Linked DNA regions of Homo sapiens. The gene in region 1 interacts genetically with each later gene. Each region holds a gene or a part of one and is shown in the gene's direction. Other genes may lie near its edges.

The links.
Region 2: of CHD1L (region 1) and PARP1, a change in one rescues a mutant of the other (synthetic rescue), as found in Homo sapiens cells (one study listed by BioGRID).

Annotation. Positions count from the first base shown.
Region 1 is NC_000001.11:147,233,255-147,249,550, forward strand, and holds the start of CHD1L (chromodomain-helicase-DNA-binding protein 1-like), read left to right. Parts: upstream 1-9,429; 5' UTR 9,430-9,449; coding exon 9,450-9,576; intron 9,577-9,885; exon of another isoform or gene 9,886-9,936; intron 9,937-16,296. UniProt on the Homo sapiens protein: ATP-dependent chromatin remodeler that mediates chromatin-remodeling following DNA damage.
Region 2 is NC_000001.11:226,400,235-226,416,176, reverse strand, and holds the start of PARP1 (poly [ADP-ribose] polymerase 1), read left to right. Parts: upstream 1-8,083; 5' UTR 8,084-8,247; coding exon 8,248-8,367; intron 8,368-13,797; coding exon 13,798-13,963; intron 13,964-15,942. UniProt on the Homo sapiens protein: Poly-ADP-ribosyltransferase that mediates poly-ADP-ribosylation of proteins and plays a key role in DNA repair.

The DNA of each region.
Region 1 (16,296 bases):
CCGCCCGGCAGCCGCCCCGTCTGGGAAGTGAGGAGCGTCTCCGCCCAGCAGCCACCCCATCCAGGAGGGAGGTGGGGATCAGCCCCTGCCAGGCCAGCCGCCCCGTCCGGGAGGGAGGTGGGGGGTCAGCCCCCCGCCCGGCCAGCCGCCCCGTCCGGGAGGGAGGTGGGGGGTCAGCCCCCCCGCCCGGCCAGCCGCCCCGTCCGGGAGGGAGGTGGGGGGGGTCAGCCCCCCGCCCGGCCAGCCGCCCCATCCGGGAGGTGAGGGGCGCCTCTGCCCGGCCGCCCCTACTGGGAAGTGAGAAGCCCCTCTGCCCGGCCACCACCCCGTCTGGGAGGTGCACCCAACATGCTCATTGAGAACAGGCCATGATGACAATGGCGGTTGTGGAATAGAAAGGGGGGAAAGGTGGGGAAAAGATTGAGAAATCGGATGGTTGCCGTGTCTGTGTAGAAAGAAGTAGACATGGGAGACTTTTCATTTTGTTCTGTACTAAGAAAAATTCTTCTGCCTTGGGATCCTGTTGATCTGTGACCTTACCCCCAACCCTGTGCTCTCTGAAACATGTGCTGTGTCCACTCAGGGTTAAATGGGTTAAGGGCGGTGCAAGATGTGCTTTGTTAAACAGAAGCTTGAAGGCAGCATGCTCGTTAAGAGTCATCACCACTCCCTAATCTCAAGTACCCAGGGACACAAACACTGCGGAAGGCGGCAGGGCCCTCTGCCTAGGAAAACCAGAGACCTTTGTTCACTTGTTTATCTGCTGACCTTCCCTCTACTATTGTCCTATGACCCTGCCAAATCCCCCTCTGCGAGAAACACCCAAGAATGATCAATAAAAAAAATAAATAAATAAATGCTAAACCGTCACAGCTGTAGATCATGAGCCTGCTCTTTTGACCCCCACATTCTCACCACCTGATTCTCTGTTGGATTACCAATAAACAGCGTGGGCTCCCAGAGCTCGGAGCCTTCGCAGCCTCCACAATTGTGATGGCCCCCTGCTCCCACTTTACTTCTCAAACTGTGGTTTTCTCAATCCTTTGACTCTACCGGACTTTGTCACCCCCAGGATCTGGTGTTGGGTCTGATCACCCCAACAGCATCCATTCTATGCCTGCTATGTGCTAGGTACTTTGTTACCCAGAGAGGAGGAAGAGAAAGTGCATATCTAAAAAAGATGAGGAGATAAATCACAGCCATCATGGTAGGCTGAAAACATCGTCCCCAAAGACATCCATGTCCTAAGCCGCAGAACCTGTGGATGTTATAACACATGTAAAGTGCCCACACGTGGCCTGGCATGTAGTTGGAGTTCAAGTATTAGTCAGCATTAATTGTAAAAAATTATTTTGTTTTCTAACTTAAAAATGTTTTTACTAATTTATTTTGAATGGACAAATAACAATTGTCTATATTTATGGAGTAATAGTGAAAAATTTGAAATGACTTCATAAACGTTCATCAAGATGGGGAAGGACTATATTACATATTATATTTAATGAGATGAATTTATACTGACATGAAAAAATTATGAAAGATTTTAACCAGCATGGCCCTTATTTCATTTGTATAGTTTCCATGGCAGAGGGTAGGAATAATTTGGGCAAGCACATTTAAAGCTTCAACTTATATACTAGGGTAAATCACATCCACTCATATTCCACTGTCCAAGGCAAATCACAGGGGTTCTTCCTATTAGGAAGCACTGCAAGTCACATGACTAAGGGCATAAATGTATAACCATCTTGTGGGGAGAAAGTGGATAGTTAGGAACAGTAATACAATCTATCAAAGCTGGTTAGAGCCCACCATGGAGTAGATATCCCACACTGTGTGTGTGTGTGTGTGTGTGTGTGTGTGTGTGTATGTGTGTGTGTATTTCTGTTTACTTTTATGACCCATATCTGTGGGCCACACATATGGGGAAAACACTATGCCTGTAGACACCCCAAGCAAATGAGATTACCATGGAACCTCAATAATGAGGGATAACTTCCAATTTCTTAATTCTCCACTGATGAGATGTGGATACTTGAGTGATCCCCAGGCTCATTCCCAAGTGAAGATTTTCAGTCCTTCGTAATACCTTGGACATTCAAATTTGTATTTAGTTTCTTGTGAAAAAATTTTCATTTAATTTTTACAACAGCATTATAGGATAGCTACTATTATCCTCATAATTCACTATGCATTATGGGCCTTTCAGAAGCACTCTGATTGTTAAAACCCTCTAATTAGGAAGCCTAATTAGACATGCCATTTTTGAGCAATTTGAGGGGATAGAGGTGGGGAACCCCCTTGCATCAAAGTTATAACTGTGCCTCAGGGATAGATACATGTGCAACAGAACCCAGAATAGGTATGCTCATTTTTCAAAACTAAAACCCAGGCTTTATAGGGTTAGGGTAAAAAAAATGGCTTTGGATTCTTGTCAATCAGAGGAAGAAGAAGGTCATAGAGAGTTCTTAGGGTCATAATTTTACATTGCCTAAAAATATTTTAGAGTAGGGTGAATCATGAGAAACATTTTGGCTTCCTATGGTATATTATTGAGACAACCTGTCCCCTACATGGAAATATTGTCACGGGATTCTTGGGGTGTTGCTTTGTGAGACAGAAACCTCTGTGGCCATTGGTACTTTTGCACAAGTTTTGCTCAAGCCTATTGGGCTTGTTTGGTCCATTCAGCCTGGCAGGCTGCACATGGCTCATGCTACCAGCCTGGATCCCATGCCAGCCAAGGGCCAGCCAGATGCAGAGCAGAGAGGGGTGTGTGAGCAAATATGAGGTCCAGCCACTATGCACAGCCAGGCATGCCAGCTGTGGCAAGGCAGGCAGCTCCAGGTGCCAGTATGGGCACTGACTCCCTGTGAGGCTCCAGCTGGACCAGGGGTGCCACAAGCAGATTTCATGGCTGGCACTGGAGAATGCAGTGGTGCCTGGAAGCTTGGAGATGCCAAGAGCTAAAGAGCCCCAAAGAGGGTGTCACAGCCCTGGCTCAGTGAGCTCCTAGGTCTGGGCTTCCCAAAGGGCTGCAGCTCCTCTCTCCTTCTCTCTTCTCTCCTTCTTGTTGCCCACAATGTGGCAAGCAATGGGCATGTTTCAGCCCTGTTTGTGTTACAACTCTTTTAGCTCCACCATTTGGCGGGTCCTGAGTTCTTGTCCTGCGTCCAAGTAGAATGATGTAAGTTGACAAGTGGAGGGTAAGCAAGGTGAAGAGAAACTTTATTGAGTGACAGAACAGCTCAGAGGAGACCCACATTGGATAGTTCCTCTCCACAGGCAGGTTGTCCCATTGAGTGTTCAGTTCTCAGCAGAGAGGAGACCCTGGAGTGGGTAGCTCCTCTCTGCAGTTGGTTGTCCCAATGTCTGCTTAGCTCTCACAGAGAGGAGACCCTGGAGTAAGCAGCTCCTCTCCACAGCTGGCAGGTCATCATTGTCAACTCAGCTCTTAGCAGAGAGTAGACCCTGGGGTGGGTAGCTCCTCTCTGCGGCTGGTTATCCCACTGTCTCAAGTCTGGCTGAGTCTGGGGCTTTTACAGGCCTCAGAGGAGAGGAAGTGTGCGCCAACTGGTCCATAGGCACCCAGATAAAACACAAGTTCTCACTCTGGTTTTTGGGACCAGCAGCCCAGCCTCCAGGCTTCAGGCCCTCCCCAGCTTGAGGGTAGGTCTTCACCGGTGACCTGCTCCCTTCCACCCAGGAGACTGCCTCCTGCTGGCATTCACAGCACCCAAACTGTTTGTGCAAAGGGGCACCTGCAGGCAAGCACAGAGGCTGAGCTGCCCCAGCACCCCCTTGGCCTCCCTCCCATGCTGGCACCCAAAGTCCTGAGGGGGCCAAAGCCATGTGTCAGTGCTGCCTGGAGTGGGTGCACACCTGGCCAGGCTGCAATAGCACCCAGCCTCAGCTCCAACCTTGCTCTGGGAATGGAGTGGGTGCTGGGAGCAGAAAGAGGCCAGGCAATGGGAGGAGACACTTCTTAGCCTGCAGGAATGGGGTGGGAGGTCTTACAGGGCCCCCAAGAGTGCAGAGATGCCCAGGTCTGCAGCTGTGGTTTGAGCAGCTATAGCTGCACCCAGGAGGGTGGGGCTCCTGCCTGCTCCAGGAACCCAAGAGCACAGGGAGGCCGAGTTGGTGGACATGACTCAGGCAGCTGCAGCTGTGCCTGAGAGGGTAGGGCTCCTGCCTGCTTTTAGCCCCAAAGAGCACAGGGATGCCCAGGTCTGCAGCTGCAGCTGGGCAGCCACAGCTGTACCTGGGGAGCAGGAAGCTCCTGCCCTGCCAACTCAGAAGGAGGCAGGGCCTCCACCTGTTCCTGGTTCCCCCAGCTCCATGGAGCTGGCAGCCCTGGTGTGCCACCCCCATTGCAAGTGGCATCATGACAGCAGCTGCTCTAGATAGGCCGTCACTGCCATCAATATGTCACAAAAGTTAAATTTCCAGTTTGGCAAACTCAAAAGCCTTCAGGGACTAGCTGGGCAGATTGCATAAACGTTACACTGCTGGTTGGAGAACATAAAGAATGAAATTCTGGGTGACCAATGTGATGGCATGGCATGACAGTCAAAAGGCATCCAGTTAAAAAGGAAAACACTGTCCTTTCAAGCAAAAAGACCGTGGGCAAATTTTGATGCCTACAATTTCTAAACTATGTTCTCAAAGATTAACTTGATAATATTACTATTTTACAACCTTACCTTTGATAGTAAAAGGGAGTGGCAATTCTCTGAGGTGACTGGGCAAGAGTCCTGTGAAACCAACTTACTTTTTTTCTATACTTCTATACTGTGGTATATTTTCCCTGGCTTTCTGGGTTCTAAATTTATTACATGTTATTTCATGACAAAGAGGTATACTGGCATCAAAAGTCAAAACACAGTTTTTCATTTCTTGCAAGAAAGAAAACCCAAGTTAAGTGTTTTTCATCCCAGCACAAAAATCTTCCACCCATGGGCACGGACCTAATTCTAACCTAAGCTCAAAGTTCCAAGTTCATTTACTCAAGAGGTCTGAATAAATGTTTACTTTGGTCACAGCTTTTATCCAATTTCCGTATCTGACTCACTAGGTGCTTCTAACTGGTGCCCTGATGTTACCTAACAGAGCAAGGATACAACAAACAGCAAACATAATTTGTTTCTTAATCTGTGCTTAATCCATGCTTGTTTTGGTAATGTCTGCACATGCTAAGTCCCACTGACAGTGTTAGTTGGTTAGCATTAATCTTATGGAGTTGCTGTTGCCAAAGGACATATCCTTTCTGTGGAGGAATAAAACAATTAACAAAAACAGCATGATTGTATAACCTGAACAATGAATGAAAAATGAGTTGAGGCTAAATTTTATTCTGGGAGTTAATCACGACTCACAGAAAACACTGGACCAGCTTCCTAAACTTTCTGTGCCTTGGTTTGCCCATCTGTGAAATGCACTCTCTGTACTTCAAAGTTATAACAATCATATGCCCTAGATTTTAAAATTGTTCCACAGGCACCTCATTCAAACATTCAACAATATTTATTGAGGGCATACTATTGTAATGCCTAACCTTGTTTTTACTAACCCTGTTTTTAGATTCTCTCTTTCCTTTAATCACCTAGCCTTGTTTCCACCTGAATTGACTGTCCCTTAGCTAAGAGAGCCAGACAGACTTCATCTTGGCTCTTTCACTGGCAGCCCCTTCCTCAAAGACATAACTTGTGCAAGCTGACTCCCAGAACATCCAAGAATTCAATTAACTGATAAAATACTGTGGCGAGCAATATCCGCAGTTCCCAGGAATTCGTCCAATTGATAACGCCCAAAGCCCCACGTCTATCAGTTTGTAAGAGTCTTAAAGCCCCTGCACCTAGAACTGTTTACTTTCTGGTAATCATTTATCCTTTTAACTTTCTGCCTACTTTACTTCTGGAAAATTGTTTTAACTAGACCCCCCCTCCCCTTTCTAAACCAAAGTATAAAAGAAAATCTAGCCCCTTCTTCAGGGCCAAGAGAACTTTGAGCGTTAGCCATCTCTCAGCCGCTGGCTAAATAAACAGACTCTTAATTCGTCTCAAAGTGTGGCGTTCTCTCTAACTCGCTCAAGTACAACACTATGTGCCCAGCACTGTTTGTACAAATCCAACACATCCCACCAGTTGCTCGGGCCACATCCCTGAACCCAACCTTTGCTTCTTCATTTCTCCCAGATGCTCAATCAGTGAATCCTATAGGCTCTATCTTTTCAATAGATCTAGTAGCAGACCACTACTCACCACTCCACTATCACCATGCTGGCCCCAAAACTATCAACTCTTGCCCAGACTACTGCAATAGTTTCCAAACTGCCTCCTTCCTTCCATCCTGATCATCTACAGATCTCTTCATACAGTATTCAGAGCAAAACTTTTCTATGTGTCACCTCACTGGCAGACCTGGAGTCTCTCAGCTACCTTTCTTAGCTGTATTTTAGGTACCAGACTTAGTATACCAACAGTCTACCTGGCTTATAGCTAGGACTCTATCATCTGGTATTCTGTTACAACAAATGTACTTTAAGTTAAAAATAATAAACAGGCTTATATTTAAGTGGCAAGTGCTTGATATGGCTGCTTTAGCAGATAAGTCTACTGGTAGAATCTAGAGGAGAGGAAATAAGTCATACATGGAGACCAAGATGCAAAAACCACTCATGAGCAGCCACATAGGACAGAGGTCCCTCTGGAGAAGCCACCAAAGGATATAAATCTCTCTTCAGGTTTGTTTTGAGAAAACACCCAAGCAGGAAAGCTGCTGTACAAAATTACTATTGCCCCATTATGCGATTGTGTTTTACTTTTGTCTTAGCATTAATCCTACCTTGTGGGGAAAAGAAAGAGAGCTCAGACTGCTACTGTGTCTGTGTAGAAAGAAGTAGAAATAAGAGACTCCATTTTGGTCTGTTCTAAGAAAAATTCTTCTGCCTTGAGATGCTGTTAATCTGTAACCCTACCCCCAACCCTGTGCTCCCTGAAACATGGGCTGTGTCCACTCAAGGTTAAATGGATTCAGGGCTGTGCAGGATGTGCTTTGTTAAACAAATGCTTGAAGGCAGCATGCTTGTTAAGAGTCCACTCCCTAATCTCAAGTACCCAGAGACACAATACACTGCGGAAGGCCGCAGGGACCTCTGCCTAGGAAAGCCAGTTATTGTCCAAGGTTTCTCCCCATGTGATAGCCTGAAATATGGCCTTGTGGGAAGGGAAAGACCTGACCGTCCCCCAGCCTGACACCCATAAAGGGTCTGTGCTGAGGAGGATTAGTAAAAGAGAAAGGAAGGCCTCTTTGCAGTTGAGATAAGAGGAAGGCATCTGTCTCCTGCTCATCCCTGGGCAATGGAATGTCTCGGTGTAAAACCCGATTGTATATTCCATTGACTGAGATAGGAGAAAACCACCTTAGGCCTGGAGGTGGGACATGTGGGCAGCAATACTGCTCTTTAAGGCATTGAGATGTTTATGTGTATGCACATCAAAAGCACAGGACTTTTTTCTTTACCTTGTTTATGATGCAGAGACATTTGTTCACATGTTTTCATGCTGACCGTCTCTCCACTATTACCCTATTGTCCTGCCACATCCCACTCTCTGAGAAATGCCCGATAATGATCAATAAATACTAAGGGAACTGAGGCTGGTGCCAGCGCAGGTCCTCTGTATGCTGAGCGCCGGTTCCCTGGGCCCACTTTTCTTTCTCTATACTTTGTCTCTGTGTCTCTTTTTTTTCTTAAGTCTCTCATTCCACCCGACGAGAAATACCCACAAGTGTGGAGGGGCAGGCCACCCCTTCACTACCTGATTTTTATTTATTGCTTGTCTCCTCCTTTTAAAATGTAAGATCCAGGAGATAAGTGGCCTCTATCTTCAGTACCATAGAGTGCTTGGCACATAGTATGTAATTCAGTCAGTGTCAGGCCTCTGAGCCCAAGCTAAGCCATCATATCCCCTGTGACCTGCACGTACACATCCAGATGGCTGGTTCCTGCCTTAACTGATGACATTCCACCACAAAAGAAGTTTAAATGGCCCGTCTTTGCCTTAAGTAATGACATTACCTTGTGAAAGTCCTTTTCCTGGTTCATCCTGGCTCAAAAAGCTCCCCTACCGAGCACCTTGTGACCTCTCACTCCTGCCCGCCACAGAACAAACCCCCTTTGACTGTAATTTTCCTTTACCTACCCAAATCTTATAAAACGACCCCACCCCTATCTCCCTTCGCTGACTCTTTTCGGACTCAGCCCACCTGCACCCAGGTGAAATAAACAGCTTTATTGCTCACACAAAGCCTGTTTGGTGGTCTCTTCACACGGACGCGCATGAAAGTCAGTATTTATGAATGACTCAAGACACAAAAATAGCTTCATAAAACAGTGCTTTGCTTGAGTTTTTATGAATAAACCAATCTGAAGTCATCCCTTTTCTAGCTCAGAACAAATTTCTCCCTTTTATTTTAGAGGAAGATGAGAATGGAGGGTACAAATTTAACATGAGTTTACTGAAGAAGGAAGCACCAAGATTAACCTAAATGAGAATACTATTCTAATGACATTAGCCAGAGAATAATATCGTTCCTGTTCCAGTACTGCCAATTACCATTACAAGTCCCAATATCTTCATTTACAATGTGGGGACAATTATAACACCTAATTATTGGTTATTGTGAAGGTTAAATAAGAAAATATACTTAAAGCCCTTAGGACACCACCCAGAACTTCATCAATAAATGCAGCTATTTTGTTATTATCATATTTATATTAGTGGTATACTACATCATAAATCCACTCAAAGCTGATGCTGAGTCACGGTGACCCCTAACTGAACACATTGCCTCAATCTGCTCCCCATAATGCACTTGAGATACCCACTGCCACAATGACGTCTTTGGTGATTTTAATTTACTACTATTCAGAGGTTCCCAATTTTGGCCTACAGGTCACAGGCAGTAAGAAAGGGATTTCAGGGACTAAATCAATTTATCACTAGGTAAACCGAACAAGAACAGTTTGATCTTATCGTGAATCACTGGAGGGCACGGAACAAGTCTTACTTCTAGAACCCCCAGGGCCCAGCGGAGTGTCTGACACATGATAGTCGATGTTGATTAAATAATAAATGAATGATGAACACATGCCACCTCCTTGACGGGCAGTTCAGGCAATCAGACGTCCTGTGCGTGATCAGACGCCTAGCGCTTCAGAAGCACGACTGGTGAGAACTGGGCAGCCCTTCCACGCTCCGCACTGCAAGAACTGCCTGTCCGGAAGGGTGACTGCACCAGCTCCGCTCCGGATATCTTGGCAGGACGCGCCCTCTGGCGGCGCCTCGCTCGTAGGTGGGCCCCAGCGCGCAGTCGCGCGCCCCCGCGCGTTGGGAAGTTGGGAGGGAGGTGCGCGCTTGGCCGCGCGGGGCGGGGCCTCTACCGGCCCGATGGAGCGCGCGGGCGCTACTAGCCGCGGGGGCCAAGCCCCTGGCTTCTTACTGCGGCTTCATACTGAGGGCCGAGCCGAGGCGGCGCGGGTGCAGGAGCAGGACTTACGGCAGTGGGGGCTGACAGGTGAGCGGGCTCCGGGCGGACTTCGGCCAGGCGGGCCAACCTATTGGGACTGCCTCTTGCGGGCCGGGGGCGCAGCGGGTGGGCCGCCCGGTGGGCAGTTTACCCGCTCGCGCCAGGGCCTTCCTTCGCTCCTGCCGTGGGCGGAGAGAAACTGCGCCCGGGCTTGGTGGCCACGGCCCCCGCCTGCGCGGCGCGCGGGGCCGGCGGACGCCAGATGAATGAGGTCGCGGGCCCGGTAGCCAGGCCTGGCCCCTGGCCTGTGGAGGGGAAACGTGGTGAGATCAGCGCCACCTGCAGGCCTCCGCTGAAGAGTTGGACGGCCTGGTGCACCAAGGATGTAGGTTTCCAGTTGCTGTTCCGGTGGGTTTGGGTCCCGGCCTGGGGAGTTTATTGGTTGCTTCTGTAAAACGATCAACTCATCTCCCAGCTTCAGCTTCTCCGTTTACTGTGCGCGCGCAGTTATTGGAGAATTCGCCACGGATTAATTCTCCGGATCGAGTTACGTGCGGTAGTGAGCGGACAAACTCAAGCAAAGCACTGTTTATGAAGCTATTTTTGTGTCTTGAGTCATTCATAAATACTGACTGAACCACGTACTATATGCCAACTTAGCTTGTCCGCTCACCACCGCACGTAACTCGATTTATTGACACTAGCCCTTACGGAGAGTCTGCAAAGCGCGAACCTTGCATGCCCCCCAGCCCTGCCGCTGCATGGCTGACCGTACTTCCTGCAGCTCCGAGACCCCGCTCTCCTCCTGGGTCTGCGCTGACTCGCCGCTGAACCGCCCCAGCCTCGTTTTCCTTACTTATAAGTTGGGAACGTAGTGTGTGCTTTGACTGTATTGACAGAATCATGCATCAGTAATAATACAGTCGTTTATTCATTACTTATTGAATGCTACTGGGAGCGTATTCTTAGGCATTGGCTACAAAGATGAGCAAAACAAATAGGGACCCTTCCTACCTAGAGTTTTAGACTAGTGAGAGTGCATTTAAAAGTATAAACTAATTTATTTAAGTGCTCAGTACCACGAAAGAGTAAGGTTTGTCATTCTAGGAATGAAACAAAAGGTGCAATTCTGTGTTCAGCTTAGAAGACTGAAAGATGAAGTTGAATGGAGAGGACGCTGACATGAAAGAGAAAGACCTCTCTCCTTGATTCCCTGAGTCTGTAAGAATGTGTGGCTGTAAGGAGTATGTATCCAGTTTTAAGTATGAGCTTGTAGACTGGTCTTTTTATGTTTGACTTTATCTTAACGAAAGTTTATGTTTGTGGGTTTGCCTATTTCCTTGCAAGTGTTGGGAATGGTTCTTTAAGAACTTGTGTGAGAGAGGGCTCAGAAAAGTGTGCCAGTTGATACTTAGCTGTGGATAATATGCCAGGAGAAACGTACATATGGGCAAGTGTTTTAGTGAAAATGAGGAGACAAGAGGTTGCAAGTTTGAGTGGATGGAATGGAGTGAGTAAATTCAGAATTAAGTAGGCAAATGTGGCAACTTGGATAAATTGGTAGTGGAGAAGGAAAATAGAAAAGCAGAGTCAAAGGAATGGCTACTGAATATTATAACTTGTAATTTCTATTTCTGTTTACCAGAATAAACTAGTGTTATGAGAAACTATTCTTCATGAGTTGGTTAAAAAAATTCTTACTACTTTTTTTTCGTTTGGTTACAGAAGTAGTACGTATTTTCAGTAAAACATTCAGGGAAATAGCCTATGCATAAAGAAAATAAATATTAATCTCCATAATCTCCTTACTGTTAACATGTTCTCTATCCTGTATAATTTCTTTTACTTTCTGGTGGAGGGGGAAGGTGAAAAATGGAGTTTCATGTACATTTTTTTGGGAAATCATAACTTTTTTTCCTTATCATTCAGTCTTCTTCAACATCATTCTTAATGGTTACAGTTTTTCAGTATATGGATGTACCATAGTTTAGACAGTCCCTCTTCTTGGTATTTAGGTTCTTTTTTTTGCTATTGTAAGTAACATAAATATCCTTGTAACCAAATATTTATTATAGGTATGGACGTTTAATTCCTGAAAGGTACCATTTCTAGAATAAAGAGTATGCAAAATTTTTGCTTATTTCTCTATACTCTCAGCAACACTGGTATTTTCTAATTTGAGAAGTTAATATGCTATCGTATTGTTTAATTTAATGTTTATTTGGTTACCAATATTGATGGACATTTGGATATTCATCTTTGGATCATGAAGTTACCTTAGGACCTTTTTGTTTCTGGAATATGCAGACCTATTACTTCTTGCTGTTTTGCTTGCTTTTTCACTACTTGTCATCTCCCTGACAGAAGGGCAAAAGAATCTACATCTGGAGGTTAAAAAGCTAAAGACTACCTTTCCCAGACCCCACTGTAGTTTGGTTGTAAACGTGACTTGGCTTTAGCCAGGCACGTGACTGGGAGATTTGGAAGGGGAAAGTGAGGGGAAGGACACAGAGGGGTTTGGATTTTCCGCTTCCCACTTAGCTACTACCTCATGGGTCTGTGGGAGGGTACAGAGCATTCATTTTGTTATCATGGATTGTGGCTGCGTTGATAGGTCCCTGGGGCTGACAGTACCGTGGCCTCCTGGTTGGTTCCTGGCTTCCAGGTCGTGGAGGTAGATACTTCCTTGGTGTGTCCATACTGTGGTGCTTGATTTAGCAGTTGTACCCAGAAGATCAGCCTAGATGTTACTCCTCCAGGCCTTTCGACAATTTTGTGGTGATCTAATTCCCTGTATTACATTCCTTTCTGCCTAACCTACCAAGGGTAATTTCTGGTTTTTGCTGTTGACTCCTAAGTGTTAAGTATTGTTATCTTTGTGGATATAATTACATATTATTTTTGAAAATTCAACTTTTTTTTTTTTTGAGATAAGGTCTCACTCTGTTGCCCAGGCTGGAGTGCAGTGGCCCATTGCAGCCTCGACCTGGGCTTCAGTGATCCTCCCACCTCAGCCTTCTGAGTAGCTGGGACTACAGGCATGAGTCACCAGTTTTAAGAAATAATACGGAAGGATCCCATGTAACCTTTACCCAGTTTCCCCTCGTGGTCATATCTTGCAATGTGGCACATTATCACATTGTGTACACTTGCAATGATGGTACACTATCACAACAGGATATTGACATTGGTACAGTCAAGATCCAGAACATTTTCCATCTCCACAAGGATCCCTCAACTTGCACTTTGATAGCTACACTCACCTCCCTTCTACCTCACCAATTCCTTAACCCCTGGCAACCACTAATCTGTTCTCCATTTCTATAATTTTGTCACTTTGAAAATGATAGGTGAGTAAAATCATACAATATGTAGCCTTTGGGGACTGGCTTTTTTTCACTCAGAGTAATTCTCTGGAGATTCATCCAGGTCGTTGCACGTATCAGTAGTTTCTTTTTATTGCTGAGTAGTACTCCACAGCACAGTATACCACAGTTTGTTTCACCACTCACCCACTGAAGGATATCTGAGTTGTTCATAGTTTGTGGCTATTGCCAAAAAAGAAAAGAAAGATATTGTAAACATTTGTATACAGATTTTGTATGAAAATAAATCTTCATTTCTCTGTAATAAATGCCTAGGAGTGCTGTGAGTGGGTCATATGGTAGTTGCATGTTTAGTTTTTAAAGAAGCTGCCAAACTGTTTCCAGAGTAGCTGTACTATTTTACATTCCCACCAGCAATGTATGACTGAGTTTGGATTCTTTGCATCCTTGCCAGCATTTGATATTGCTACTTTTTTATATTGACTATTCTAATGTATGTGAAATGCTATCTCATTGTGGCTTAGATATGAATTTCCCTATTGGCTAATGAAATATGTAACCTCTTTGATAAAATGTCTTTTTCTGTCTTTTGCCCATTTTAAAATAGGATCCTTTGTTGTTGTTGTTTTTTCACTGTTGAGTTTTGACATACTCTAGTCTTTATATAATCTAGATACTAATATTTTCTCAGATATATGTCTTACAAAAGTTTTAAATTTTGGCTAAAATTTATCAGTTTATCAATTTTTTCTCTTATGGATAGTTTTCTTGTTGTTTGGTGTCAAATATAAGAACTCATTGGCTATTCCCAGATCCTAAAGAGTTTTTTCCTAAAAGTTTTACAGCTTCTTATTTAAGTCCATGATCTACTTTGAGTTAATTTTTGTTGCACAAATTTTGATATGTTGTATTTTCATTTTTATTTAGTTCAGTGTATTTATTTCCCTGGAGACTTCCTCTTTTGATGGACTGTTTAGAAAGAAGTGTGTTGTCTAGTTTCCAAGTGTTGAGAGATTTGCCTCTAATGTTTCTGTCCATGAATTCTAATTTTATTACATTGTGGTCAGAGAACATACTCTGTACAATTTCAGTTCTTTTAAATGTGTTGGGGTTTTCTGGCCCTGCTTTAGTTTGGATATGGATTATCTGTCCCCACCAAATATCATGTTGAAATTTGATCCCCAGTGTTGGAGGTGGGGCCTAATGAAAGGTGTTTAGGTCATGGGGGCAAATCCTTCCTGAATAGATTAATGCTCTCCCTGAGCAGGGAGCAGAGAGAGTGACTGACTTCTTACTTACTAGCTTCCAGAAAGCTGGTTGTTAAAAAGAGCCTGGCATCCCCCACGCCTTTCTTCCTCTCTCACCATGTGATCTCTGTACATGCCACCCCCACTTCCCCTTCTGCCATTAGTGGAAACAGTCTGAAGCCCTCACCTGAAGCAGATGTTGGTGCCATGCTTCTTGTACAATCTGTAGAACCATGAGCCAAATAAACCTCTTTTTATTTTTAAATTATCCAACCTCGAGTATTCCATAGCAACACTAAATGGACTAAGACAGGCCCTGAATATGTTGTATGGTCCATGGCACTTGAAAACAATGTGTATTCTCCTGTCTTTGGGTATCAGCAGAGCTGCATTCCTTTCTGGAGGCTCTAGGGGAGAATATATTTCCCAGCATCCAGAGGCTGCCCACATCACTTGACTCCTGGCCCCTTTCCTCCAACTTCAAAGCCAGAAACATTGCATCTCTTTGATCCTTCTCTAGCCAGCTTCCTCTCTAACCACAGCTGTTAAAGTTTCTCCGAATGATGCATGTGATTAGATTGTATGTCCATTGCGTTATCCAGGCCCACCTGGATAATTCAGGGTACTCTTCCATCTCAAGCCCCTTAACCTTGATTATGTGTTCAGAATGCCTTTTGCCATATAAGGTCACATACTCACTGATGCCAGGATCAGGGCTTGGACATCTTTGTGAGGGCCACTATTTTGTCTACCACTTCTTCCTTTTACTTTTCACTTATTTAATTATTTTTGGGTTGAATTTCTTGTAGACAATTTATAATTGGGTTATGTTTAAAATCCACTCTGGAAGTCTTATTTTTTTTTTCTTTGAGACGGAGTTTCGCTCTTGTTGCCCAGGCTGGAGTGCAATGGCACGATCTCAGCTCACCGCAACCTCCTGCCTCCCAGGTTCAAGTGATTCTCCCACCTCAGCTTCCTGAGTAGCTGGGATTACAGGCATGAGCCACCATACCCGGCTAATTTTGTATTTTTAATAGAGACGGGGTTTCTCCATGTTGGTCAGGCTGGTCTTGAACTCCCTACCTCAGGAGATCCTCCCGCCTCAGCCTCCCAAAGTGCTGGGATTACAGGTGTGAGCCACTGTGCCCAGCCAAGTCTTTGTCTTTTAATTGGTATACTTACACCATTTATATTTCAAGTAATTATTACTATGTTTGAGCTTAACTCTGCCATCTTATTTTTATTGTTTTTAGTTTATCTCTGTTTCTTTTTCTTGCCTTCCTGTGAATTATTTGAACATTTTTTAGAATTTTATTTTTGTTTATTTACAGTGTTTTTTAGTTTATCTCTTTGTGTAGCTTTTTAGTGGTCGTTACGGGTATTGTATGTAAATGTACGTATGTGTGTATAAAATCACAGACTACTGATATTGTCATTTTACTTATTTGAGTAAAGTATGGAAACATTACTTCCCTTTATATAAACATTACTTCCCTGTATATCTATCTTCCCTTTGTATTTATAGCTTTACTTTTTGTTTATAATTGTCTTAAATATTTCCTTTAGAACCACATCAGACACTGTTATAATCTTTGCTTCAGCGGTCAAACATAATTTTAAAAACTCAAGAAAAGGAAAACCTATTGTATTTACACGTTTTTGAATGCTGCATTCTCACCTTGATGTTCCAAGGTTCCATCTTTTATCATTTCCTTTTTTTCCAAGGGCTTCCTTTAGCCATTCTTTGAGGGTAGGTTTGTTGATGATAAATTCTCTTTGTTTTCCTTCATCTGAGAATTTCCTCTTCATTCCTGAATACCATTTTTCTTGATTACAGGAGTCTGGATTGACAGTTCTTTTCTTTCGATATTTGAAACATGTTGTGGCATTTCTTTCTGGCCTTTAAGATTTCTGACAAGAAATCTGCTTGCATTTGAATAGTTTTTCCTCTTTAAGTAAGGTGTTGTTTGTTTTTTTTCTGGCTGCATTTAAGATATTTTCTTTGTCTTTTGTTTTCAGCATTTTAATAATTACATATCTTGGTGTGTATTTTTTTTTTTTTTTTTTTTGAGATAGAGTCTCTCTCTGTTGCCAGGCTGGAGCGCAGTGGCGCTATCTCAGCTCACTGCAACCTCCGCCTCCTGGGTTCAAGCAATTTTCGTGCCTCAGCCTCCCGAGTAGCTGGGACTACAGGC
Region 2 (15,942 bases), about 79 Mb from region 1:
CTGAGGCGGGAGGATCGCTTGAGTCCTCAAGGTCAAGGCTGCAGTGAGCCACCATGGCACCACTGCACTCCAGGCTGAGCGACAAAGTGAGAACCTGTCTCAAAAAAAATAAAACAGGCCGGGCGTAGTGGCGCGCACCTGTAATTCCAGCTACTCAGGAGGCTGAGGCAGGAGAATTGCTTGTATGTGGGAGGTGGACGTTGCAGTGAGCCGAGATCACACCGCTGCACTTCAGCCTGGGCAACAGAGTGAGACTCTGTCTAAATAAAATGAAATACAATAAAATAAAAGCAGAAAACCATTTACTTCTCAAAATTCAAAGGATTGTGCATTTCCACATATGTTCACAGCTGTGGATATTGTTAGTCTCACACCTATAATCCCAGGTGTGTTGCTGGTGGATGTATAAACGGGTACAGCGTTTCCAAAGGGCAATTTGCCAGAATCTCTAAAGATTTTAAATGTACACACCTCATCAGCAACCCAGCTTCTAGGAATCCATCTCAAAGAAATCATAGTAAAGGTATACAAAGACAAATGTAGAAGGGTGAAAATGACAGCATTATTTTTCACTTTTTTTTTTTTTTTTGTGAGACAGAGTCTCGCTCTGTCACCCAGGCTGGAGTGCAGTGGTGTGATCTCAGCTCACTGCAACCTCCACCTCCCAGGTTCAAGCAATTCTCCTGCCTCAGCCTCTAGAGTAGTTGGGAATACAGGGGTGGGCCACTACGTCTGGCTAATTTTTGTATTTTTAGTAGAGACGGGGTTTTACCATGTTGGCCAGGCTGGTCTCCAACTCCTGATCTCAGGTGATCTTCCCACCTCGGCCTCCCAAAGTGCTGGGATTACAGGCGTGAGTCACTGTGCCCGGCCTATTTTTCACGTTTTTTAACAGAAAAAGAAGAAAAAAAAGGAAACAACCGAAACAATCTAATTTTTTTTTTAAAACCAAGTAATTTATGGGAAGATAGACTGAGCACATGTCATTTAACACCCCTCATGTCCCAAATCCCATGAAGTCAGAGAAGAAGTATCTTAAAGTAAACTAATGTATCCCTAATAGAACAGGAAAAGCATACAGCAGTGTGCCATCAGTGCTTTTGGATCACTTCCTATTCACCCCATTGGTGGAGGAGGGATCTCCCGCCCTCAATAGCATGTGATGGTCAAGGACATGGTACCTGACACTGGACAGAAGAGGCTGGCAGCAGCTTATTGCTCAGAGTCTGGGGGAGAAGGACACCGCCCACCCTGCAGGGCCACATAGGGGCTGCCGTGGGGAGCAGAGTGAGCCAGCAGGGACTGTGGGAGGCAGGCTTTGTAGTGACAAGATGGTGGGGTGACCCTTGGATCCCACATGAGGATGCAATTGGCTTGTTTGAATCTTTTGCCCAGCTGGCAGGAAGGTGAAATCCATTAAGTTGGGGTCTAGGTAGGTAGGGTACAGCTGATCCAGTTGACTGGGGAACCGGCTGGCGGGGAGCCTTTCCTGCTGGGTGGGGAAATATCTAGTTAGTGCCTGGGAATTCATGTTAGGCCCTGTGAGGCCCAAGGATGGAATCACAGGCCTCACAATCTGCAGTGGACCTATATATCAGGAAGCCCTGCAGGATGGACAGCACACAGGATTAGGTGCATGTGGGAGACTCCCAGATAGCAGCCGAGGAGGGGCCTGCTGCCGAGCCAGGAGCGAGTAAGGAAACTGCAAACCCAGGCAAGGAGGAGGGGGTCCTGGCATCTGTCAAGGTGGTGTGGGCACAGCCAGTGTGGGGATGAGGGAGGCTCTGTGGCTCCAGGCTGCTACCAACCCCTGGGGAAGATGGAACTCCCACAGCCAGAGACAACCCACTGGCACCCCCATCGCAGGGGCACACACCCACCCTCACCTCCCCACACACAAAGTCACCAGACGTAGCTGTGGAAAGAAAGCAGGAGATAGGTATCAAGATCGTCTCAAATACACAAATGAGCAGATAAGCAAGAACCACTGAATTGTTGAAGACCGTCAACACTGTGAAAGACACCTACAATAAACGCAGTGAGCTCGGATTCAGTGTTACGGTGACTGGTGATGGCGTCCTTCTTCCCCCACACCTCATTTTCAAATAGGAGCAAGATAAATCGTGTCATGCGATAAGGGGATAAGGGAGGAGAGCATGGAAGAGAGCACAACCAGGTAGGGAAATAACACGTGACCCTCTTCAGAAGTGGGAGGAAGTGGTACGGTCCTTCTTGTCCCAAAGATTCTCCAGATCTACTCTCCCTGGATCAGGCCACAAACAGGGGAGACTCCTGAAAACGCTGCTGCTCTCCATAAGTCCCAGGAAGCCACAAGACCCCAAATTGAACCCATCAATATGTAAGCTGGGGTGGAAAATTGCTACCCGGGAGTATCAAACCACAGCCATGACCAGGATGAATTTGGACCCACAGCCACATCCTGAGAACCAGCTATAGTTGGAGGCTCAGAGCAATCTTCTCACTAACCTCACAATTACACAACCCCACATCTTACCATTTGTGTTTTGGAACACGACATTATGGAAGGGTCTTACTACACCAAACTCAGCAGAACTGACAAAACCTAAAAATTAAAGACATATCATTAAGAGAGCAATAACTTCTAGACTATATTACATTCATTAAACATCAGCTCAAGATACTGGAAAGTAAAACATGTAATGGCTAAAATTTGTTAATCTAATGAAAGATGGACACAGCAGAAGCTTTTGTCAGTGACCCAAGAAATTAAGCTGAGACAGCTTCTCATTAACTCGCCAAAAGTTAAAGAGATAAACAGAACATTATGAAATTGGGAGGGTATTTCTAAAAATGAAGCAAAGCAAGTAGTCAAATCAATGATAGAAAAAAAAAAAGTGTCCCCACATCTGAAGATCTGATTTTTTGGATTGCAGGGCCATTTAGTCCTGAGGAAGAAGAATAATGTAAGATACAACTGTGGCAGACACTGCTAGTTGTCCACGGAAATCTGTCCCTGCCTTCTTCCCAGACATAGGCTAGCCTGCACTCCCATCTCCCTTGTCTCTAGGTGTGAAATGGGAGCCCAGCTCCTCTGTGCAACTTCTGCCTCACCTGCTTAACAGGAAATCCCTGGTGTGGGGCTTTAGACATCCCCCCCACCCCACCACCACACACACATACACCAGCAGTCAGAATTGTGTGTCTCTCTTCTTTCTTTTTTTTCTTTTTGAGACAGTCTTGGTCTGTCGACCAGGCTAGAGTGCAGTGGTGCAATCTCGGCTCACTGCAACCTCTGCCTCCCAAGATCAAGGGATTCTCCTGCCTCAGCCTCCTGAGTAGCTGGGATTATAGGCATGCACCACCATGCCCAGCTAATTGTTTTGTATTTTTAGTAGAGACAGGGTTTCACCGTGTTAGTCAGGCTGGTCTCAAACTCCTGACCTTGTGATCCGCCTGCCTTGGCCTCCCAAAGTGCTGGGATTACAGGCACGAGCCACCATCTCTTCTTTCCACTCCTGATCAATCTTGACAAAATATAAAACCAAACCAAGACAAATCAACTTTGTAAAATAAAGATAAAGTTGGAGGTCTCACACTTTCTGATTTCAAAACTTACTATGATGTGGCGTTGGAATAAAGACAAACATATAGACCAATGGAACAGAATAGAGAGCCCAAAAATAAACCCTCAACATATATGGTTAAATGATTTCAACAAGGGTGCCAAGATCATTCAGTGGGAAAAGGACAGTCTCTTCCACAGATGGTGGATCTCCACATGCAGAAGAATGTAGCTGGACCCATACCTTACACCAAATGTTTGTTGTGAGTTTATTTACTTTTTTGTGTGTGTGGAGACAGGGTCGTGCTATGTTGTCCAGGCTGATCTAGAACTCCTTACCTAGAGACACTGCCAAGGTAAGTGAGGGCCAAGTGGACACTGAGTGATTCTGTGCCTCACTGAGCAAAAATAACTAAACATGGGCGAAGGAGAGCCCAATGATCCCAGGGACAAAATGTCATCACGGGCATTCTGCGCACGCTTGCCAGGATACAGGAGAAGCAACCAGACACTTCATTCATCTTCTCAGAATGTTCATTAACATGTTCAGAAAGGTGGAAAACCTTACTTGCTAAAGAGAAGGAAATTGGAGGCATGGCCAAAAGTATTCAAGGCCCTTTATGAAAAAGAAATGAAAACTGATATCCCTCCTAAAAGAGAAGTAAAACAGAAATTCAGAGATTCTAATGCACCCGAAAGGCCTCCTTTGGGCTTTCACTTTGTGTTCTGAGTACTGCCCTCAAATCAAAGGAGATCCCGGTCTGTCCACTGGCAGTGATGCCAAGAACCTGGGAGGGACATGAGTGACCATGCTGCAGATGGCAAGCAGCCCAAAAAGAAGGCTTCTCAACTGAAGGAAAAGTACCAAGAGCAGAATGCTGCATATCCAGCCAAAGGAAAGCTGATGTGGCAAAAATGATGCTGTCAAGGCCGAAAAAGGCAAGAAAAAAAAACAAAGCGGAGAAAGACAGAGAAGGTAAGGAAAATAAAAAATGAAGTCGATGATAATGACAAATAAGGTGGTTCTATGGCAGCTTTTTTTTTTTTCTCTTGTCTATAAAGCATTTAACCTACCTGGACACAGCTCATTCCTTTTAAAGAAAAAAATTGAAATGTAAAGCCACCTAAGATTTATTTGTAAACTGCATGATGGCGTTCTTTTTCTGTTTTTGTATTATTAACAAGAATTATCAAGTAATTCTTCAGACAACCCTGTCCTGGTGGTATTTTGTATAGCCACCAACTTTGCCTGGTATACTATAGGGGTTATAAATCAGCATGGGAATTTCAAATTTAAGGCACAGTATAAGTTAGTTATATACAAATGTGAAGTAACATTATTAATTAAACTGTTGGCCTGTGCGAAGGGAGGGCCAACTGTGGGATTCAGTCATTCATTCAACAAATATTGGTGAGTGCCTGACACTGTTCCAGGCACTGAGGCTATTGCAACAAAACAGACACAAGCTCCTGCCCTCATGGAGCTTACATTCTGGTGAGGGATACAGAGCCACCAAAAAGGATGGCAGCTGGGCCATGAGAAAGGATCAAAGTCAGGAAGTTAGAATTCGGGGATGGATTGAACATGGGACAAAAGAGAAGAGTCAAGTTGACTACAAAGCATTTGGCCTAAGTAATGCAAAGAATGGTGGGCCATTTCCTGAGATGGGAAGCACTAGGGTAGTTTTGGACATAAATGGAGATGCATATAAGCCATCCAAACTGAAATATTGAGAAGGCAGTAGGTGATAGTTGGCTTTCCTTAGGTTCTAGGGCAGGAATTCTTAACCTTTTGTGTGTGTGCCTAGGACCCCTTTGGTGGTCCATGAAGCCCTTTCCAGAATAAATATTGTGGAGGAACCTACCTTAATGCAATAGTAGCTTCTAGGTACATTATCAGGCAAACTATCCCACAAGTTACAAAACAGAAAGCCTCACAGACCAAATTATGATGCTTGAATTGCAGGGTTTATTGAATCAGTTTAAAACCACTTACAGCAAGAACTCGATGGGGTGCATAACATACACAGGATAGGGTACAGGCGAGGCAGATGGACCACACCACCAGAACCTAGAATTAGGGAATCCTCCCCTCCCCTCCCCTCCCACCCCTCCCCCCTTCCCCCTCCCCTCCCCTCCCCTCCTCCCCTCCTCTCCCATCCTCCCCTCCCCTCCCATCCTCCCCTCCCCTCCCCTTTTCTCTTCTTTTCTTTTTTTGAGACTGTCTCACTATGTTGCCCAGGCTGGAGTGCAATGGCGTGATCTCGGCTCACTGCAACTTCCACCTCCTGGGTTCAAGCGATTCTCATGCCTCAGCCTCCCGAGTAGCTGGGATTACAGGCACGCACCACAATGCCCAGCTAATTTTTGTATTCTTAGTAGAGACGGGGTTTCACCATGTTGACCAGGCTGGTTTTGAACTCCTGACCTTAGGTGATCCACCCGCCTCAGATTCCCAAAGCGCTGGGATTACAGGCATGAGCCACTGCACCTGGCTAATATTGATATGTTTTCCCTCTCTCTGCCGCATCAGCCTGTCCCACTGACAGAGTTGAGGATGCTCAAGGCGGCTCAACAGAGGGTACCTGGAGCAACTCACACTGCACTATCAGAGAGACACAAGTGCAAGCACACTCAGCCACAGCTGCAGCTCACCAATCAGCCTGCTGAACAGACCTGAACTTTAGCTGCATTTTTGGGGCAGAGCATATGGGTGCCAGGATGGGACCATAATCTTATCACCAATGAGTGGCCATTTAGGGATGATATAGTTGTCAACCCAGAGATGGCATGATCATGCCTTTTGACTTGGTCATTCTCTAAGTAAAACTTTTATTTGTTCCATCATATTTTCCACTTATTCTGTTTACCTTCAAAATATCTTTTTTTTTTTTTTTTGAGACAGGGTCACACTGTCACCCAGGCTAGAGTCCAGTGGCACTATCATGGCTCACCACAGCCTCAACCTTCAGGGCTCAGGTGATCCTCCCACTTCAGCCTCCCGAGTAGATGGGACTACAGGCACCTGCCACCACCCCCAGCTAATTTTTGTAGAGACAAGGTTTTGCCATGTTGTCCAGGCTGGTCTTGAACTCCTGGGCTCAAGGGATCCGGCCACCTCAGCCTCCCAAAGTGCTAGGATTATAGGCATGAGCCACTGTGCCCAGCCTACCTTCAACGTATCTAACTGGTTACTAACTTTTAGGATTCGGCCTATGTCTCACAACCTTCTTGCTTACTCAACATCCTTGTCTCTTAAGCCACTAGCTTCTTCTCTATGGTTAACACTTTTTATGAGTTTTATTCATCTGCTTATTTTTCTTATCCTCTATACCAGAATTGAATATTTTCAAATAAAGCACACTCATGTTACAATCTTTGAAATGAAAAAAAAAAATGCATAGGATTAGAAAAGAAACCAATTTTAATAAACTATATTTTGAAGTATAGTTCTATATTAAACAACAAGATCTAGGCCAGGTGCAGTGGCTCATGCCTGTAATCCCAGCAATTTGGGAAGTCGAGGTGGGAGGATTGCTTGAGGCCAGGGGTTCAAGACCAGCCTGGGCAACATGGAGAGATTCCCCATCTCTTTCTTTACACACACACACACACACACACACAAAATATCTGATAGCAACAGGTGCAGTCATTACCACAATTTCGAGTAGTGATGAGCTTAATAATATTTCGAGTTATCACCAACAACTGTAAAGTAACATGAAAACGTCTGTGATGACTATTGCCCACAAAGTCACAGGTACTGCTAATACTCCTGGTATTTGTAGTCAAATTCATAATAAAGGAAATGCTAGGTTTCAGTTGGTATTTTGTCCCGACGGTCTGTGGACGGCAGGTTAGAACGCCCGTCCAAGCCAGGAGGGTGGACCTAGCACTGCAGGGTCCACCTCGGGCCAATCAACTATATTCCCGAGGCGGGGGCCTGCGCTTCCCGGACCCAGCTGCCCTCAGGGGAGAGAGGACACACTTAAGAGTTTGGGGCCGGCGTGGTAGCTCATGCCCCTGATCCCAGCACTTCGGGAGGCTGAGGCGTGAAGATCACTTGTAGCAGGAGTTTGAGACCAGTCTAGCCAACTTGGCGAGACCCTGTCCCTAAAAAAAATTTTTTTTTAATTAGCCAGTTGTGGTGAGCGCCTGTAGTCCCAGCTACTCGGGAGGCTGAGGTGGGAGGATCGCTGGGCTCAGGAGTTCCAGACTGCAGTGAGCCATGATGGCGGCACTGCACTCCAGCGCGGTGAGACTCAGTCTCAAAAATAAAAGGGGGAGGGGTTGGGGGTAAAATTAGTTGTGAAATCAAGTAAGACTTCCTGGGACAGAACAATCAAAGGGGTGGCGCCGGGTCCTCCAAAGAGCTACTAGCTCAGCCCAAGCCCCGCCTCGGCCCCCAGGGCAGCGGCCCGCAGAGCTCCACCCGGCAGGCGCCCGGGAAACTCCGCCCCCCGGCCGGCAGGGGGCGCGCGCGCCGCCGGCCCCGCCCCGTGGACGCGGGTTCCGTGGGCGTTCCCGCGGCCAGGCATCAGCAATCTATCAGGGAACGGCGGTGGCCGGTGCGGCGTGTTCGGTGGCGGCTCTGGCCGCTCAGGCGCCTGCGGCTGGGTGAGCGCACGCGAGGCGGCGAGGCGGCAGCGTGTTTCTAGGTCGTGGCGTCGGGCTTCCGGAGCTTTGGCGGCAGCTAGGGGAGGATGGCGGAGTCTTCGGATAAGCTCTATCGAGTCGAGTACGCCAAGAGCGGGCGCGCCTCTTGCAAGAAATGCAGCGAGAGCATCCCCAAGGACTCGCTCCGGATGGCCATCATGGTGCAGGTGCGGGCCGCTGTGCGGGCGGCGGGGCGGGGACGCGGCGCCCCGGGTTAACTGTGTCCGGGAAGGCTGGGGGAGGGCGGGCCCAGGGAGCGAGCGGGCCCGGGCCCTCGGAGCGGCACTTGGGGCCTATGGGGCCGCGGCCGCCCCTCCTCCCGAGCGGCCCGGCCGACCCTTCCGGAAGGTTTTGCTGATGTTGCAGGAAAAGCCCGGGAAATAAAGTCTGCAGCTGGTGTTGCCTTTCGCTTTGTGAAAACGAGGAGCCTCTTCTCTTCTCCTTTCTGGGTGGCGGTGTTTTATTACTGCCGTTCGCCTCAGGGGTTGGGGGGGAATTGTACATGGTCTCTTTAAGCTAATCTGATTTTGACCTATCTTGTTCTGGAGGGTTTTTGTTCTACATGGATGGTGGCGACTGACATGTGGGTTTTTTTTTTTTTTGTTAAACCTATTTTTGGCAGTCATTTCAACACGTCATTTAAACGCTCACTCTCATTTTTTATTTTAATTAGGCAGAACTATGCAGAAAGGTGTCATTTCTGTACAGTACATTCACTTTGAGCCTAATTTGTGCTTTAAAGTAACATTTTCCCCAAATTTTCCAGATTCACAGACGCGTTCTCTTGGTGCATTTGCAGCTGTCTGGTTTGAGTAAGAGTGGCTCCAGGGGGGTTTCTCATGTGGGCTTTTTGATAGATTGAATCCCCTTCTGAGGTTTCCTGAGCCTTCTGTGAGGTGGTGGGCTTGAAGGCCCCTGTCATTTCCCAGGGGCTCCTGCCTCCAGCTTCCAGTTTGCCGATGTCTACCTTTGTATTAATAATTCTGGTTCTCATCTGCCCTGTTCCTCCTCGCTTCCAACATATTACCCAAGCTTAGTGCTCATGGTCAAGGTAGCTTGATTTTCCTCCCTTCCATGAGCTGTAATGTGTTTTAGGAATGACCAGATATCCCTCAGTGGATTTTCAGTACTTAGTACAAGGGAGGGCGACATTTACCGAGTGGATACCCAAGTGCCAGGTGTACTTCCGTTATCTTATTTCACAATATGCCTGTCATCTTGGTGTCCTCGGGGCATACCTAAGTCAGTACGTGGCACACAGTGCTTATTTGGTAGGCATTTTTTAAGTTCTAAGCACTCTGTTAGGTTTTAAGGACACAGAATCCACCTTTGGGAATTTCCAGTTTGGTTAAACGGGAAATGACTGGTAAACAAACGTTACCGTAAGAGAGGATGGATGCCACCTGATGGAGCTGTGCTCTAGGCATTGTGTGCCTAGGAGTCCGAGATGACCCAGCTAAGGGTGGAAGCTTGATTAGGAGTCGTTAATTCACAGAAGTGGAGCAGAAAGATGAGAATAGGGAAGTAGACAGGGCCTACAATTTGAAGAGCCTTGTTGCCCACTAAGGAACCTAGAACTTACTTTGAATATACAAGGCAGCCTGTTATGAAGTTCTCACTCCTGGTGCAGGAGCTCTTAACCCAGGGTCTGTGGGATGGTAGGTAGAAGGCAAGAGGTCCATGAGTTTAGATAAGAAAAAATTGATATCTCCATCTCCACTAACCTCTAGATAAAATTATTTCCTCTAATCATAAATGTAAGCAGCAAAGCAAAGGCATATTAGCAGTCCCTATTTTTTTTTCACCAGTGATAATTACAGATATTTTCATATCACTTTACAGTTGGAAGTTTTTCAAAATATAATTTACTCTCATTGCTACAAAAATCACAGTTATTAGAGGCTGTACTAGATCTTGTTATTTAATGCTTAAAAGCTCACGGGTTACTGTACCCAAATTACCTTTCAAATGTTTTGATAATTATCTCAGTGTTTCCTTTTCGAGCCTTTTTGTTTGTTTTGTTTTTTGAGATGGGGTCTCACTATGTTGCCCAGGCTGGTCTCAAACTCCTGAGCTCAAGCGATCCATGCACCTCGGCCCCACAAAGTGCTAGGGTTACAGGCATGAGCCACCGTGACTGGCCATTTGCGAGCCTTTTTATTACGCATTTTTAAATGTTATTCTGAGAAAGGGACATCCAGGCGCCTTAACAGGTGGGCAGAGTACCGTGTTCTGGTGGAAAGACAAACAAAACCCAAGTCCAGACTGTGTTGAGGCTAGAACAACACCGCTGTGGAGGAAGTTAGAGGAGGCTTAGCTGTGGGGGAGGCCGGATGGAGGAAACTGAACCTGATCAAGTTTAGCATTCTGGGGCCGGGCTTGGTGGCGCATGCTTGTAATCTCAGCACTTTGGGAGGCTGGGGTGGGCAGATTACTTAAGCTCAGCAGTTTGAGACCAGCCTGGCCAACATGGTGAAACCTGTCTCTACAAAAAAATGCAATGATTAGCGGGTCGTGGTGGTGCGTGCCTGTTAAGTCCCAGCTACTCCGGAGGCTGAAGCTGGAAGATTGCTTGAGCCTGGGAGGTGGAGGTTGCAGTGAGCTGAGATAGTGCCACTGCACTCCAGCCTGGGCGACAGACCCAGACCCAGACCCAGACCCTGTCTGAAAAAAAAAATAGTAATAACAACATTCTGGGCTTTCCTTTGGTATACTTGATAGTGAAAGAAACTCTTTATTATTAAAAGTAACTGTGATTTTTATGTAATGGTGATTAAGGGTGGATTCAGAGTTTTAATTCAGAATTTAAAGTTGGTCTGGTAGACTGAGCTGGTGAAGGCCAAAAAGAAAGAAGCCTTTTCACTTGCTTGAATTTAAATACCTTCTTTTACATTTACATGGGAGTATTGTTCTCTGAGTATCTGATACCTGACACTTTAGCCCTCATGCCTGGGGCATCTTGGGAGGGATGAGCTGGGCCCTCCAGCATTTTGGTGGGAGGAGGATGGCGGTAGACCTTTGAGTTGCTCTGTCCTGGGAGGGTTTGAGCACCCGGAGGCATGCAGTGAGGTCAGTTCATTCTCTCTGTGGCCTAGGTGGACAGGTAGCATGGCCTGTTCTGCACAGAAGGGAACCCAGTTCACCAGCTGCTGGTTGGGTGAGGACCCTGGTATGTTAGGTGCTCAGTTTTTGCTTGGGTGCACAGCCAAAGATTCTGTGCCTTGCCTCAGCTGTGCAGCTAACAAATGGAGTCGATAGTCTTGTGACCTTGGTTTGGTGCCTTTCTGCCACATCATTCTCAGTCCTGAGTTTAGGGCAAAGCATTGCTTTGGTCAGGGGTGCTTCTGCTGAGGCTCTTGTCCTCTAAGCTTGTGCTGTGATTGCACCATTGGGCAGCACCTCCAGGGTGTCCAGCACTGTGCCGGTGGTTGGGGGAGACAGCACCCAGACCAAAGGGCAGCAGGTCTGGGGCCCCTGGCAGAGCCAGGAAGAAGTGCCATAGCCATTACCTGTGCTCTTTATACAAGGGTAACTGGAACATTGCACAGGAAGGGTAGACAAGGGGTAGACAAGCAGGCAGAGCCAGGTCGAGGCCATTGCAAATATTCCATGATAGCCAGATGCTTAGGGATCTGTATCAGCAGCCTAATTGAGATCTGGTGGAACGTTTGAGAGTTGGAACATGAGTATGCTCTCAGAAATGCCATTTGTTGTCTCTTCTACAGCAGGAATTTCCCCATCCTTCCTTTTTTGTTCCATCTGACTTGGAGCCCTAAGCAAACACTGCGTGCCCTCTGTGACATGTTGCTAGAGAATAGCAAGATAGGCCCTTATGAAATAATCACCAAATGCATAGTTCTTAGTGAGGGGAGCTGTGGAAGGAGCATTGGGAGATCTGAGGGAGTGCTCTGAACAGGGCTGGAGAGCATTCCAGACCCAGGGGAAAGCTGATGTTGAGGAGTCCTTGTGCTGCCATAGTCTTAGCTGTGCATTTTAATACATCACATCCAGAAAGAGGCCACTCACAGTGGAGAGAGATAGTGGGGTACCTTATCATTGCTTTTCCAGAGTATTTTCCCTGTCCCCGCAACTCCATCCTAAAAATTCAGCACATTTACTTTTAATGCTGTTTTAATAGTCTTATTGCATCTGTGTGACATTTAGCTTTATGTTCTATAAAAGCAGATGTTTGGGACTTCCCTTACTTTAGTCAGATCACAGTTGGTGTATTTTTAAGTAGCTCTTCCTGCCGGGCAGTGGAGTGTGGTGGGAGGAATCATAGTGTCAAATCATTCATTTGCTGCCTCTGTGACTCCCAACCCCCCAGGCAAGGATTTCCAGCCCCACTGTCTCCATCTGTGAATGAAAGGGCTGGTTCCCACCCAGAGGCAGATTGTGGGATTACACAGGATGGCTTATGAAAGGAGCAGGGACACACACTACATACTGTGTCTTCCCCTTCTTCCCAATCGCTGTCACCGTCCACTCTGTAAAGCCAGGACTGGGTGCAGTGGTTCATGCCTGTAATCCCAGCACTTCGGGAAGCCGAGGCGGGCGGGTCACGAGGTCAGAAGTTCGAGACCAGCCTGGCCAACATGGTGAAGCCCCATTGCTACTAACAATACAAAAATTAGCCAGGCATGGGTGGCACGTGCCTGTAGTCCCAGCTACTCAGGAGGCCGAGGCAGGAGAATCGCTTGAACCCAGGAGACAGAGGTTGCAGTGAGCTGAGATCGCACCACTGCACTCAGTGCAAGACTCGGTCTCAAAAACAAAGCCAGACAGTGCTCGAGGCCTGGGAGCAGAACCTGACCCTGTCACAATGAAAGGCCTAGTGGGAAGCAAACCACCTGGAGAGGGGAACTGTGTTCCCTGTGGCCAGACTTCTCAGGTCCTACGCCTGGGAAACTGCGCCCCAGAAGGCCAGTGAGCAGCTGACTCCAGCTCTAGGCATGCTGCCCCGAACCATCCGCTGTCACAGTTGCCTCAAAGACCTCCATTCATTCCACTCCCATCTGTGTGGCTGCTGCAAGCTTGACACTTTTTTCTGACACACTTTCTCTGCTTTGCTCATTATCTGGGACTTGTTCCTTGTTATTCTTAACTGCAGAGGCACTTAAAGAGCCCTTTTCTGGGGCACACAGGCCCTTTGAGTCCAGGCAAGCCTGGAGCAGTTGTCTGGCCATTCCCAGCAGATGCTGCAGGATTGTGACTCTGCACAAGTGTCTTCTGTGCATTTCACTAGGCCATGAGGCAGCTCACCACTAAATGTAGCAGTGTGTGGTCAAAAGGGACGTGGGGCAGAGCTCAGTGGTAAAAGGCCACCTTTCTCGTGGCTGTGTTTGGTGTCCTAAGAGAATGAGCTCAAGAACAGTGGGCTACAGTCTTCTGACCCTTGGGGAAGATCGTGAGAAGGATGCTGCAGCTCTTCATGTGAGAGCGGAGGCTGTCCTCCTTTCACAGATAGGAGAACAAAAGTTTCATGTGCTATCCCACTGCTGGGGCTGGGACTGGGGTCGAGGTCAAGGTCAAGGTCTAGTGGGTCTAAGTCAAAAGTTAACTGCTTACTTACTTCCCTCTGTTTCTCTTCCTTCTAGTCGCCCATGTTTGATGGAAAAGTCCCACACTGGTACCACTTCTCCTGCTTCTGGAAGGTGGGCCACTCCATCCGGCACCCTGACGTTGAGGTGGATGGGTTCTCTGAGCTTCGGTGGGATGACCAGCAGAAAGTCAAGAAGACAGCGGAAGCTGGAGGAGTGACAGGTGTGTACATACTGGGGCAGCATGGGCATTCAGCCCCCACCCTGAAGCTCCCAGGAGGGCCTCGTCTCAGAGAGCAAAGCAAACCTCCCCCAGCTTGCCCTCTCCCACATGTGCAGATCAAGCGTATGGTGCCCATGTTATTTCAGCAACACCTCCTGGACTCAGCATCATCTGTTGCATGATATTTGGTATTTTGTTTTTCCAGGTGCTTGGAATGTAGCCTTTAAAGTTGTTTTGTTTTTAATATACTTTATTTTTGTTCATGGCAAAAGTAAGCAAAGAACAAAGAGTTTCCAGTACCCCCTCCCCCTCCCACCACACAGGCTCTTCCTTGTCAACACCTCCCACCAGAGTAGTACATTTGTTATAATTGAGGAACCTACACTGACACATCATTATTGCCCAGAGTCCAGAAACTCCTGATGCTCTACATTCTATGGGTTTGGACAAATGTATGATGACATGCATCTGCCATTATAGTATCATACAGAGTAGTTTCAGACCTGCACCCTTCTGCAGCCCCCTTAAGATTAAGGAAGAATAGCTCATCTCTGAGAGGGGAATGAGGTAGGAGGTGGGGCTCAGACACCAAACCAAACCGAGGACTAACTAAAGCAGGGACAGGGACGAAGCAGCTTTCCATAAAACACCCACCAGTGTGCCATATCAGTTTACCATTGCCATGGCAATACCCGGAAGTTACCACCCCTTTCTGTGACAACAATCTGATGACCTAAAAGTTACCACCCCGTTTCTTAACATGTCTGCATAGTCTGCCCCTTAATTTGCATATAATTAAAAGTGGGTGTAAATATGACTTCAGAACTGCCTTTGAGCTGCTGCTCTCAGCACAGTGCCTGTGGGGTAGCCCTGCTCTGCAGGAGCAGTCACAGAGCCATAACACTGCTGCCTCAATAAAGCTGCTTTCTTCTACCACGAGCTCGCTCTTAAATGCTTTCCAGAGCGAAGCCAAGGACCCGCCCAGGCCAATCCCCAATTTAGGGCTGGCCTGCCCTGCATCAGTTTCACTGCTCTAAAAATCCCCTGTTTATCCCTCCTAATTCCTGACAACCACTGCTCTTTTTACTGTCTCCACAGTTTTCTCCTTTTATGTCTTCTCCCATGTCTTAGTACAGGTCACGTCAGGTGACATAGCAGAGCAGAAAGCAAAGCTATTAAAAGCTTTATTAGGAGAGGTAATCCTAGGGCAGCAAGAGAGAGGGAGGAAGGGGAGGCAGGAGGGCAAGCACAGTGCCATACGCTGTCAAGCTGGCCATGGCTTCATGAGAAACAGCCAATGGCTTGGTCATGCAGGATGCCCTCACGCAAGTCCTTTGCCACTAAGCTTCAGAAAAGCCCCTCGGAGCAGGAGGAAGGGAGCAGCATTATCCATTGGTTCTTTCTGCCTCTTGTTTCTCATTGGTTTTAGCTCGCTGGAGGTGCTGTGGTTCTCTGCACTTCCAGACTGTGTTCCTGGCCTCTGCACAGTCACGCCCTGCAGCCAGAGCTGCCTCTAGATCTGGAAGTGGCGGGAGGACTCTCAGTCCCTGGTTTTGAAAGAGTTGGCCTGTTGGTGACAGTGCTGTGTTTGTTACTGTGGTGGTCACTACAGGGTGGGTATGCCAGGGTGTGGCCCTTACCCTGAGGCAGTGACAGTGCTAGGGAACAAGGCTGTGGCACCAGCAGCCACTGTCAGGTAGCCCACCCTGGGGATACAGATGAACTACATCCAGTACGTGTAATTTTATGGTTCCTTATTTCTTTTAACATCTAAATGTTTACTCTATTTGAGAGTTATCCCGGTGTGTGCTGATGTGTGGTGTGAGGCGTGACTCCAGTTTTATTTTTTTCCAGATGATGATCTAGTTTCCCTACTTTGTTTTTTTGTTGTTGTTTTTGTTTTTGTTTTGTTTTCGAGATGGAGTCTCACTCTGTTGCCCAGGCTGGAGTGCTGTGGCATGGTCTTGGCTCACTGCCAC